Linked DNA regions of Homo sapiens: region 2 is linked to region 1. A link means that fine-mapping ties the variant in region 1 to the expression of a gene that starts in the linked region. Tissue or cell type: sigmoid colon. Region 1 holds a variant in brackets; the other region holds the start of a gene. All regions are shown on one strand. Distances are from middle to middle.

The links. PIP is the estimated chance that this variant, and not a neighbour inherited with it, causes the effect.
Region 2: it holds the start of ANO6, and the variant in region 1 is fine-mapped to the expression of ANO6 in sigmoid colon (GTEx, PIP 0.92).

Annotation. Positions count from the first base shown.
Region 1 is chr12:45,402,770-45,407,958 of GRCh38, forward strand. It overlaps ANO6 (anoctamin 6), which reads left to right. Exons shown (of 20, transcript NM_001025356.3): 14 at 303-472; 15 at 670-767. The region is part of intron 5 of LOC105369743 (a long non-coding RNA gene); the gene reads right to left. Among named protein-coding and RNA genes, the nearest start is that of ANO6, 190 kb to the left of the region's middle. The variant C/T (reference allele first, on the strand shown) is at 2,180.
Region 2 is chr12:45,213,157-45,218,345 of GRCh38, forward strand. It overlaps ANO6 (anoctamin 6), which reads left to right and starts at 2,939. Exons shown (of 20, transcript NM_001025356.3): 1 at 2,939-3,235. The coding sequence starts at 3,166. It also overlaps the pseudogene PLEKHA8P1. RefSeq lists enhancers at 2,705-2,804, 3,815-3,944 and a silencer at 3,265-3,574.

The DNA of each region.
Region 1 (5,189 bases):
TGGCAGTTCTTATTTGATAACACTGGACTTGTAAATTTTAAGGAACAGTTGATTTTTTTGTGGGGCAGGGGGGAACATGTGGGCTATTGTATTCCTACTGTGAGGGAGAACTCATAACAATGTGCAAACTTGGAATTAACACAGTGGCTATATTAAGGAATTCAAAACAGCTTAAATGGAAACAGTGTGAATTGTATTTTTTTAACGTGTTTAACGTGTTAACTCATGTATCAGTATTTTTTATTAGAGTCTCAAAGCTGTTCACAATTTTAAAATCTTATTTCTCTTTCTTTTAACTACAGAACTCCCAAGGACCCAGACTGATTATGAGAACAGCCTCACCATGAAGATGTTCTTATTCCAGTTTGTCAACTACTACTCTTCATGCTTCTACATAGCATTCTTTAAGGGCAAATTTGTAGGCTATCCAGGAGACCCAGTTTATTGGTTGGGAAAATACAGAAATGAAGAGGTATGAATATATAATTGTATTATCTTGCCAGTTTAAGCTGAGTTTTCTCTCAGTTGCCCAAATGAATAGTTTTTTATTGTAAATTCCTTAGATTTATTTTTTAGCCTAAACAGAACAAATGTCAGAAAAATAGAATGCCTATATTTCAAGTTAGATCCATTGAATATTTAAATGGTATTTTCTTTTTAACCTTCTAGTGTGACCCAGGTGGCTGTCTTCTTGAACTGACAACTCAGCTGACAATAATCATGGGAGGAAAAGCAATCTGGAATAACATACAAGAAGTATTATTGCCGTGAGTGTTAAATTGTATAGCCATGGGTAAAAGGACAAGGGATAGAACAGCCCATCCACACAAATCATTTGCCTACATAGCCACATAGCCACATAGCTGCATGTCCACCTCTAAATGGATCAGAATCTGTTGTCATTAAAGGTCTCCAGACAACATAGTCCAACCAACAATGCAAATGTATCCAGGATCTAATAATTGTATTTTAAAACCTTCATTATATTTAATGTAAATCCCCATCTGCTAGAGTTTATACCTACTGGGCTATTGTTGGTGACTGACTAATCACAACCCTTTGAGCGACAGCACTGGTTAGAGCTGTGAACTGTGTATTTCCACAATTTCTTATATCCTCATATCCTTCTCCTCTCTTTCCTATATATTATGCATTTAAAAGTCAGTATGAATTCCAGTCACTATATTAAGTGCTATATATATATATACATCATTTAATCTACCAAACTATCCTTATTTTTATCTCCTTTTTACTAATGAAGATCTGTGGTTTAAAGAGGTTAAATGATTTACCCAGTTTCACATTAGCATTAAGAGACTACTGTAGGATTCAAATCCAGGATCCCATGAGTACAAACTTTTAAGAATAGAGGTTCTTTCATGATCCTAAGGCACTAGGATATATAATGTTTTAAGAAATAATTGTCTAAAATAATAATCACAAAGGCTTTGACTTACTGTTGTTTTCCTAAAAAATGAGAACAACAGAATAGTTGTACTTCAAATGTTAACTAAGATTTCATTGCCCTTTACAATTTTCACTTAGGCCCCCTCCACTATCAAAGTGTAAAGTCCAACACCATCTGCAATTTCTGCAAATTTCAGGGAGCTTTTTGTTTGGGTTTTCTATTGCTGCTATAACAAATTACCCCAAGATTAATGGGATAAAAATAACATGTAATATTTTATGGTCCCGGGGGTCAGAAGTCTCACTGGACTAAAATCAAGGTGTTAGTGGGGCTGTGTTCATTTCCAAGGGCTCTGGGGTGAATCTCTTTGCCTTTCCTAGCTTCTGGAGGCCACCATCTATGCTCCCTGCCTTGTAACCTCTTCTCCATCTTAAAGCCAGCAAAGTTTCGTGTTTGTGACTATCTTCTGTAGTCACCTCTCCCGCCTTCTGTCTTCTTCCCCCTGTCCTCCTCCTCTCATCTCCCCCACCACCTCTTCCCTTGTTTAGAAATAAAAAACCTCTACCTTTATAAAAAGTCTTTTATCCCACTATATAGCTGGGAATTTTTTAAAATTTATCACCCTTCTTTACAGGCTCTCGCCTCCTGCCATGTTGCCCTCTTGCCTCCATCACATACAACTTCTCTCTCCTTTCTTCTCCTACTCCTGGCTTTTTTCTCCCCAGTCACCAAGTTTCTGTTCATTCTCTTTATTGAGCAGTTAACTCACTC[C/T]GGGTTTCAGTGCCTCCTTCCAGATTTCTTTAACAGGTCTTATTCTCCATCTTCAATGGAAACTGTCAGGGTCTTTCTCTAAACAAAGATCTCTCTCCTTCCTCTTCCCCCACCCAGAAAGGGATTCTGGCTTTAGCTGTGAAATTCTTTTTTTTTTTTTATCCTACTCCGGAGAAAACAACCCTCACTTTCATTGAGCTCATATTCAGATTTTTCCAGATAAGTAAAAGTAGGTCATGCATAAATAGTACTGTGTTTCTAGATGAAAACAAATATATAAAATTGAGGAAAGTCTTAATCCATTCTGAGATTAAAAAGGGTTTTCTGAAAAAAGTAGGTTAATTATTTAACACTATGTTTCGGTAACATTGGTTTTTAGCAGCTATTTCCTAAACTGGAATTGAGAAATTCATATGAAATGAAATTTGTTCACATGAAATATTTTAAAGGATGAATTATACTATCCGTGGTTTATACTTTCACTTCAAGTAAGCTCATTGTTGAAAATTACAGTGATATGAACTTTGCCTTCAAATTTCTCCCCCTATGTTTTCTTGTTTGAAAACTGAGAATGCTGAGTGTTAGCCAAATTAGAGAGTGACTGGTGCTGCTTCTCTTTGTGTAGGTGCCAGTTTTCTTAACTTTTTTATACAAAGTCCTAATTTATCAAAGATATATCAGCCAGGTGCTGTGGTTCACACTGGTAATCCCAGCACTTTGGGAGGCCAAGGTGGTCAGATCACCTGAGGTCGGGAGTTCGAGACCAGCCTGACCAACATGGAGAAACCCCATCTCTACTGAAAATACAAAATTAGCCAGACATTTGGTGCATGCCTGTAATCCCAGCTACTCAGGAGGCTGAGGCAGGAGAATTGCTTGAACCTGGAGGCGGAGGTTGCAGTGAGCCGAGATCGCACCATTGCACTCCAGCCTAGGCAACAAGAGCGAAACTCCATCTCGAAGAAAAAAAAAAGATATATCAGTTATCCTTTCTATCCAAAACTATACCCACCCCCCAAAAATAGATAGAGAAAAGCCTTATAAGTCAGCAGTTGTTTTCACATCGTGTAAGTGTGTCAAGAGAAACATGGAGAAATGTTTCACCACACATGTACCCTCCTCTTCCTTCCTTCCTCTCCCGCCTTTGGGCCCATACCCCTTGACTAGGATTCTTGCAACAAGGAAAGGAGCATATCTGGCTCAGGGATCCAGGTTCCTTTTGGGGCCTCCCCAGTACCTGGCATATGACAGGGACTCAGTATGAAGCAGCTGAGTGAATGAATAAGTGCCTTGTATGCTTCAGATACATCACATCAGTAAATTACAGAGTTGTCAGTGAGACCCGGAGAGCAAGCTCAGAGCCCTTTGGCCTTCCCAGCTCCACCTTAGTGTTTTGATATTTAAGGTATTCCTGGGGATTTTATTCTGTTCTTAATAAAAGGCTAGTATAATTCCTGTGTTAACTCACTCTGGAGAAATTTTTATAACAAAATGTCAGAGATAATAGAATTAAGGATCCAAAATGTCTGTAGTATCAATTGTTTGGTATTTAGTAGATAGCTATAATTTTCCTTTATATACATTTATACATGTATATTGTAACATAAACGCCTCTTCTTATATAAATAAGTATACTTATTTATATAATAAGAAAAAAGAACTGTTTTAGGAGAAAATGTCCCTTCTCAGGATAGGATTTGGAGAGAAGATGAGCTATAGGCAATCAGAGTCCTAAATATAGGTGTCCCTCACTATCCACACTTACTCTCTAGGTTCAGAAACAGTAAACTGACACATAAAATAGATTCAGATAGTGAAGGATGCTTGTATTTCAAAATTAGCAAGTGGGAATACTGTAGAACGTCCTAAACAGAAATGATGATCATCTCCATTATGTGGATTAAATGTGATAATGGAGTTGAAGAGGAAGTGAGATGTAAAGTGCTTCTCACCATGTTTTGTACAAAATAAGGACCTAGTAAAGCATAACTTATGATGTGGCTATGACAATACACATGGTAAATTCCTATGGAAATTATTTTGTAACCCCTGCTTCTAGCCTTGGCCAGGGAAAACGTATCTGGTGTGTATATTTTTCTAAAAGTTCTGTGGGTGATTCTCATGTGAAGTCAAGATTGAGCTCCCTGCACTAGAAACACAGACCAATAGAAAACCCAAACATGAGTGGTTCAACTCAGGAAAACCAAACAAGAGGCTCAGCATCTGTAACTCAGAAATGAAAGCTAGTAAGAAAGACTTCTAAGATGACCTGATATGAGACGGAAGCGCCAGCTGACACAAGTAGTTGCCAGGACAGAAGTTTCATCCTGAATCTGAGCTTTGATGTGATTTAGAGCCCAGACAGAAAAAGACCTGCTTCTCTGAGGGCATGGAAAGGATTCAGCAAGAGGCGGAGGCTAGAAGTTTGGGAGGCAAAGCAAAGTATAAACAAATAGAAACCACACCCAGTGACCTTAGAGTTCGGTGTCATGAAGGGTGATGGACATGTGTGGTCCTTGGTGCTACCTGAGTCACCCCCCCCCCCCCCCCCGGAATGACTGCAAAACTGCAGATTCTGGAGCTTATCTCAGACCTTTTAGTTGGGAGCACAGGAAGCTGCACTACTCACAAGCATTCCATGTCATGCTTGTATGTGCTGAAGTGGGAACCACTGATCCAGGTGGCCTGGATAACTGAGCCAAGAGTCTACGTAATATAGGCCATATTTACACTTGGCCTCAGCCAGTGCAGCCTGTATTGCTCAACAGAAAATCCCATTCAGCAGGTTTTGATGTGTTAGGAAACGTGCTACATCCGTTACCTATTTTGAATCATTTAATCCTGACAGCAGCCCTGGGCAATGTAGGTTTTATCACCCCGTTTTATTTTTTTACCAAAGTTAACCAGCTAAGAAATAGAGTGTGGATTCAGATTCAGGGGTGTCTGAACTCATATCCCATCCACTTTCCACAGCCTCCTGCTGCCTCTCTAACATCATCAAAAAGAAAGA
Region 2 (5,189 bases), 190 kb before region 1:
CCCATCAAGCTGACCCTGCCTGGATTAGATAGTAAAGTTATAGGACTGAATGAGTTCTATAGGGAAAGATGAGAAGAAAAGAGACCCAAGACCTGAAGCTAGAAAAGCAACAACTTTTACAGGATGGGCAGAGAAAGAATATCCTGGTGGCCAAAAGTTGTATTTAATCAGATGAATGAATGAGAAAATAATTGTTCTGCGATCCCTGACTTGAAAAAGCTTTGCAAATACAAATAACCTGGCTGTATATTAATATTTTATTTCACAAATTATTATTGTATGGATGATAATTCTTCAGGGTTAAATGTGTGGTTCTTACATAGGCCTATTATCCTATTTCTGAGGCATATATTGATTGCTCAACTGAAAAAAAATGCAGAAGAGAAGTGGTAGGAAATAAAATGGATTAGAGGAAAGAATGGAATTTACTAATAATAGAGTTCCCTTCTAGCAACAGTTACCTTTACATATAAGGCCAACAATGTTTCGCTGCAACATTTATCAAAGAAGAAAAATGTAAACTCTTAAAAATCTGTGAAGAATTCTAAATGACTAATTAAAACTTGTTGCAAAGTCAACTTCGATAATTTTTTAACTACAAAGTAACTTTGACCGAAGTCTTAGTCCATAAAAATGAGAACAAGGCCGGGCGCGGTGGCTCACGCCTGTAATCCCAGCACTTTGGGAGGCAGAGGCGGGCGGATCACGAGGTCGGGAGATCTAGACCATCCTGGCTAACACGGTGAAACCCCGTCCCTACTAAAAATACAAAAAATTAGCTGGGCGTGGTGGTGGGCGCCTGTAGTCCCAGCTACTCCGGAGGCTGAGGCAGGAGAATGGCGTGACCCTGGGAGGTGGAGCTTGCAGTGAGCCGAGATCTAGCCACTGCACTACAGCCTGGGTGACAGAGCGCGACTCTGTCTTAAAAAAAAAAAGAGAGAACATTTGGTTAAAGAACTATGGCAGGGAGTTGATGAGACTTTGAATTTTGAATTGGTGGGGGAAAAAGTGATCTGAAAAAAAAATGGATTGGGACATGTCTCTGGAGGTGGTTTATGAAGAGGCTATGAGCACTGATTCTGAAACAAGCTGTTGAGGTTTCAATCCTGGCTCCACTATTTATTCCCTGTGTGATTTTGGACAAGTTGCTCAAGTTGCCTCACACCTGAAGAAAAATGATAACACTTTCTAGGGTTGTTATGAGGGTTGAATGACTGGATGCTTATAAAACATGTAAAACTTTTCCTAGCACATAAAAAGTACTACACAAAAATTTGTTAAAAGAAAATTGTAAAAATTGATCATGTAACCAAAACACTTTTGAAGTTTCTACTTTTAGTGAGTTTCACAAGCTCAGGGGAGAGTGTTCAGTGAAAGGAAACAATCTCTTCTCATCTTTCTTCTCCCATCATTTTTTTCTCCTATCTTCAGAGTACTGTATTGTTGTCTCTTTATACTAAAAACAATTCTGTTTATTCAAAAAAAGTACCTCAAGAAGCAAGTATAGTGTTTCCCAGGTATTTTCTTAAAAGTAATTTCATCATGTCTTTTCATGTATATATTCATGTCTATTTTCCCACTTAAGATTGGTCCCAATGTTTTCTTTCTTTCAGAGAGAACATTAAAAATGTTAGGAAACTGAGGTGCAAGGATTGCTGGAGGCCAGGAGTTCGAAACCAGCCTGGGCAACATAGTGAGACACCCATCTCTACAAAAAAATTTAAGAATAAGCCCCACATGGTGGTGTGCTCCGCTTGTAGTTCTAGTTACTGAACTCCCACCTCGGCAACAGAGCGAGACCGTCTTAAAAAAAGTATGTGGAAGAAAAAACATGCACAGTAGATTTAGTGTTATTGTGATAACCCTAGCACTTCAGTGGAAAAAATATAAACAATTTCAATGAGTAGACAATAACACATATAACCAAGATTTCAAATATACCTTCTAGCCCTTTTGAGAAGTCAAAATTGAACAACCTGAATGTACCAGCTTTTTTGAAAAAAGTTTTGTAGACACGCGATCCCCAAAACCTGCCGTTCAAACAACTCCAAGGGTCTTTAAAGTACTAAATCCCTTTGTATTTGTCCTATCGGTCCCTTTGGTTTCCAGGAAAGCATTAAAAATAAAAATAAAAACTCTCTGCCTTAATTTTATTTCACGACTTTCTTTTCTCTTATTATAGCTTTCCACATTGCTTTAGAAGAGTTTACATCTAACTCTAGTGGTCTTCGGCTTCTTCTCCCTCTTTGACACAGAGGACTAGTTTCAATTGTACAAATAGGCTGGACGCTTCAGCGATTATCTTCCGACCACTCCCTGTGTGCTCGCGCGGGCGGAGTAGGGGGCGCTTCTCCACTCTCCGCGACCTCAATGTATGCGGAAATCCTCCTGCCTTTGTGCACACGTTTATTTAGAAAATTCTCTCCACCCCCACTCCCGTCCGTCCCGCCCCTTCTTCTTTTGCTTATTCTCTGAGTTTTGCCTCTCCTCCCACCCCGACTCCACCGTAATCTTAACCTACCCGTACAGATTCCACTTTCCCACTTCGGAGCTAGAGTAATTTAAGATCCCCCCATTATTAGCTCCACGTCGCCTTTAAAAGCCATTCAAACGAGTTCGCCTTCCAGGGTTCTGCAGTTGTGCTGCAGCAGCATTTCCCTCCTCTCCAGTATCAGACGTTAAAACAAAGCAAGCCACAGTGTGTGTCCACAGACGACCTTGGAACGAAAAGCTGCCCTGTTTGGGATCAATGCTCAGGGAACCCAGTCCACTCCCGCACTCACGTGTTCCCGCCTTGCCCTCCAGCTAGTTCCCCCGCGCGCAGGATCGCACTACTCCCTCTGCAGTCTCGCCTGCCGACTTCCTTCTGCGCGCCTCGTAAAACCGGGGAAGTTCAATCATTCCGCAGCGAGCCGCGGCGGCCGCACTGGGCATGCTCAGTCTCCGGGCTCCGCTCGGCAGGCGAGAGGCGTCCTCCGGCTCTGGGCTCCGGTCGGTGGGTGCCTCGGCTCGGCTTTCCCCGGCGCTGGCTGGGCTCAGCGGCCCCTGAGCCCAAGCGACACACGCCCCGCGGTCCCCGATCCGGCCCCTGGGAGAGCCGCGCCGTTCTGGAACCCGGGAGCCCCCAACTTCGCGCCAAGTTCGGAGCCGCCTTCTGAGGGAGACATGAAAAAGATGAGCAGGAATGTTTTGCTACAAATGGAGGAGGAGGAGGACGACGACGATGGGGATATCGGTGAGCGAGGGGTCCCCGCGTCCCCACCCGAGAGCCCGAGCCGACGCGGGAAGAAGTTCGGGGACTGCGCGGGGGCGCTGTGCTCTCCGCGGGGGAGGTTGGCCGAGACGCTCGGCCGCTCCGGGCAGGGGAGGAAGCCCGCTGTCCCCGGCTGCTTGCAGACTGAGGCCCCGGTGCGGCCCCTGCGGGGCTGAGGCGCGGGGCGCGTGGTGGCCCCGAGGACAGGCTCCTGACGGGCGGGGGATGCTGCCCCTGAAAAGCCTGGCAGCTGCGGGGACGCCTCTGCGTGCGGAAGTCTCCACTCAGAAGCAACTTTGGGGTCACTTCCCCGACTCGCAGAGTGCTAGGGTTGCCCAGGAGCCTCGGCACTGGGGCGAGCCCCCTGGGCGGGGTCCGGGGAGCAGGCCCGCATTTGGAGGACAGGGTGTGACCCATCTGAATCCTCGTTAAAGTAAAAGCCGACCGACGGCTCTGGGAGGTTTGAGGCCTGGCGGGGCGGCCCCGGGAAGTGATTTGTGGCCGCTAGGCGCGCGCTGGAAACCCTTTCCCATCTGCGGAGCCCACCGGAGCTGTGATCGGAGGAGGAATTCCCCCAGGCAGGGAGGACCGCAGGGCCTTTTTCACTCGTCCTGAGGGGCCCTGGGGCTTGGGGAGCAAACCTGGGGTGACCCATTTCTAGTTAGAGTTAAAAATGCATGGAAGTGACAAGACGAACGGAGGGAGAGCTGTTTTAAGAGCAAAAAAAGAAAAAAAGGGCAAACAAAAGGGATGAGAGGAGGTGAGGAAGGGGAAAGGAATGAGAGGACTAGAGAGAAAATCAGGTCCCTAAAGAGAACACTGTCGGGGGATGATGATATAATGTGTCCCTCCAGAAGACTCTAATTAAATTACCAAGCCAGTCTGTTGTGGCGACTCGGCTTAGTCTCCTGGATGCCAAATCAATTTTAAAGCAGAACATCCTGCTGATGTTCTAAAGCCCTGTTGTTATCTAATAACTTTAAAAGTAACTTAATTTTAGGAGTTGGGTGTGGTTTTTATTTCTGTTACATTTTGGGCACGGAATATTTCGATCAAAAAAATTTGGTAACTTCTTGGTTGTCCAGGGACAAATCGAATAGAGGAGATTACACTCCATGATTTAGTTTCACATTTCATTCATTCATTTAAGAACAATTTACTAGTTATTCATCTTTAAGGAGAGAGCAAATAGTAGTAGTTTTTATAGGAGAGAAAACTGAAGCGCACAGGTTGGTCTGCCCAGCTTCTCACACTTTCAAACCCAGGTTTTCTGACTTGTAAAACCAGTGAAGATTAATGCTCTTACCACTGGGTCACTCTGGCTGTTACTACTGTTTAGCAAGATTAAGTAGTACCTGATGATTACATAAAAATATAGGAGTGAAATTTAAAAAGTTACAATAAAATTGACACAGTCTGTTTCCCAGGAAAGTATTATTGTCTTTTATGGTGAGCTGCACTGTTTATAATGAGTATTGTAAGTAAATAAGGGCAGAAGCTCAAATGGAAACTGAAGTAAGCAAGAGGCTCTGAGCTTTGTTTTACTGTGCCAGCAGTAGATCTCAGTTTAGAAAGTAATTTGGTCTAGTCTGTGTTTACCTATTGAGGCATCGTATAAATTCATCTTAAGCGTGTGGCAGTAAGCTCTTTTTATTTTTAATGACATGTCATTCATGCTAGTTTTGTCCAGTCAAACAGTGTAGATAGACTTAAGAAAAAGTTAAATATCTCTACTCCTCCCCACCCTCTAGAAACTACTAATACTAATACTTTAGTGTTAATATTAGTAGGGCATTTCCCACTATTCCTGTGGGGCCCTGGGGTCTCTACTGTAGGGGTCATCTCAACATATTTTACGTCAAGCAGCAGGTACCATTTAAACAGGTCTTGGCAATATTTTTTTCTTCTCAGTGAATGAAAAGATATGCTGATGTTC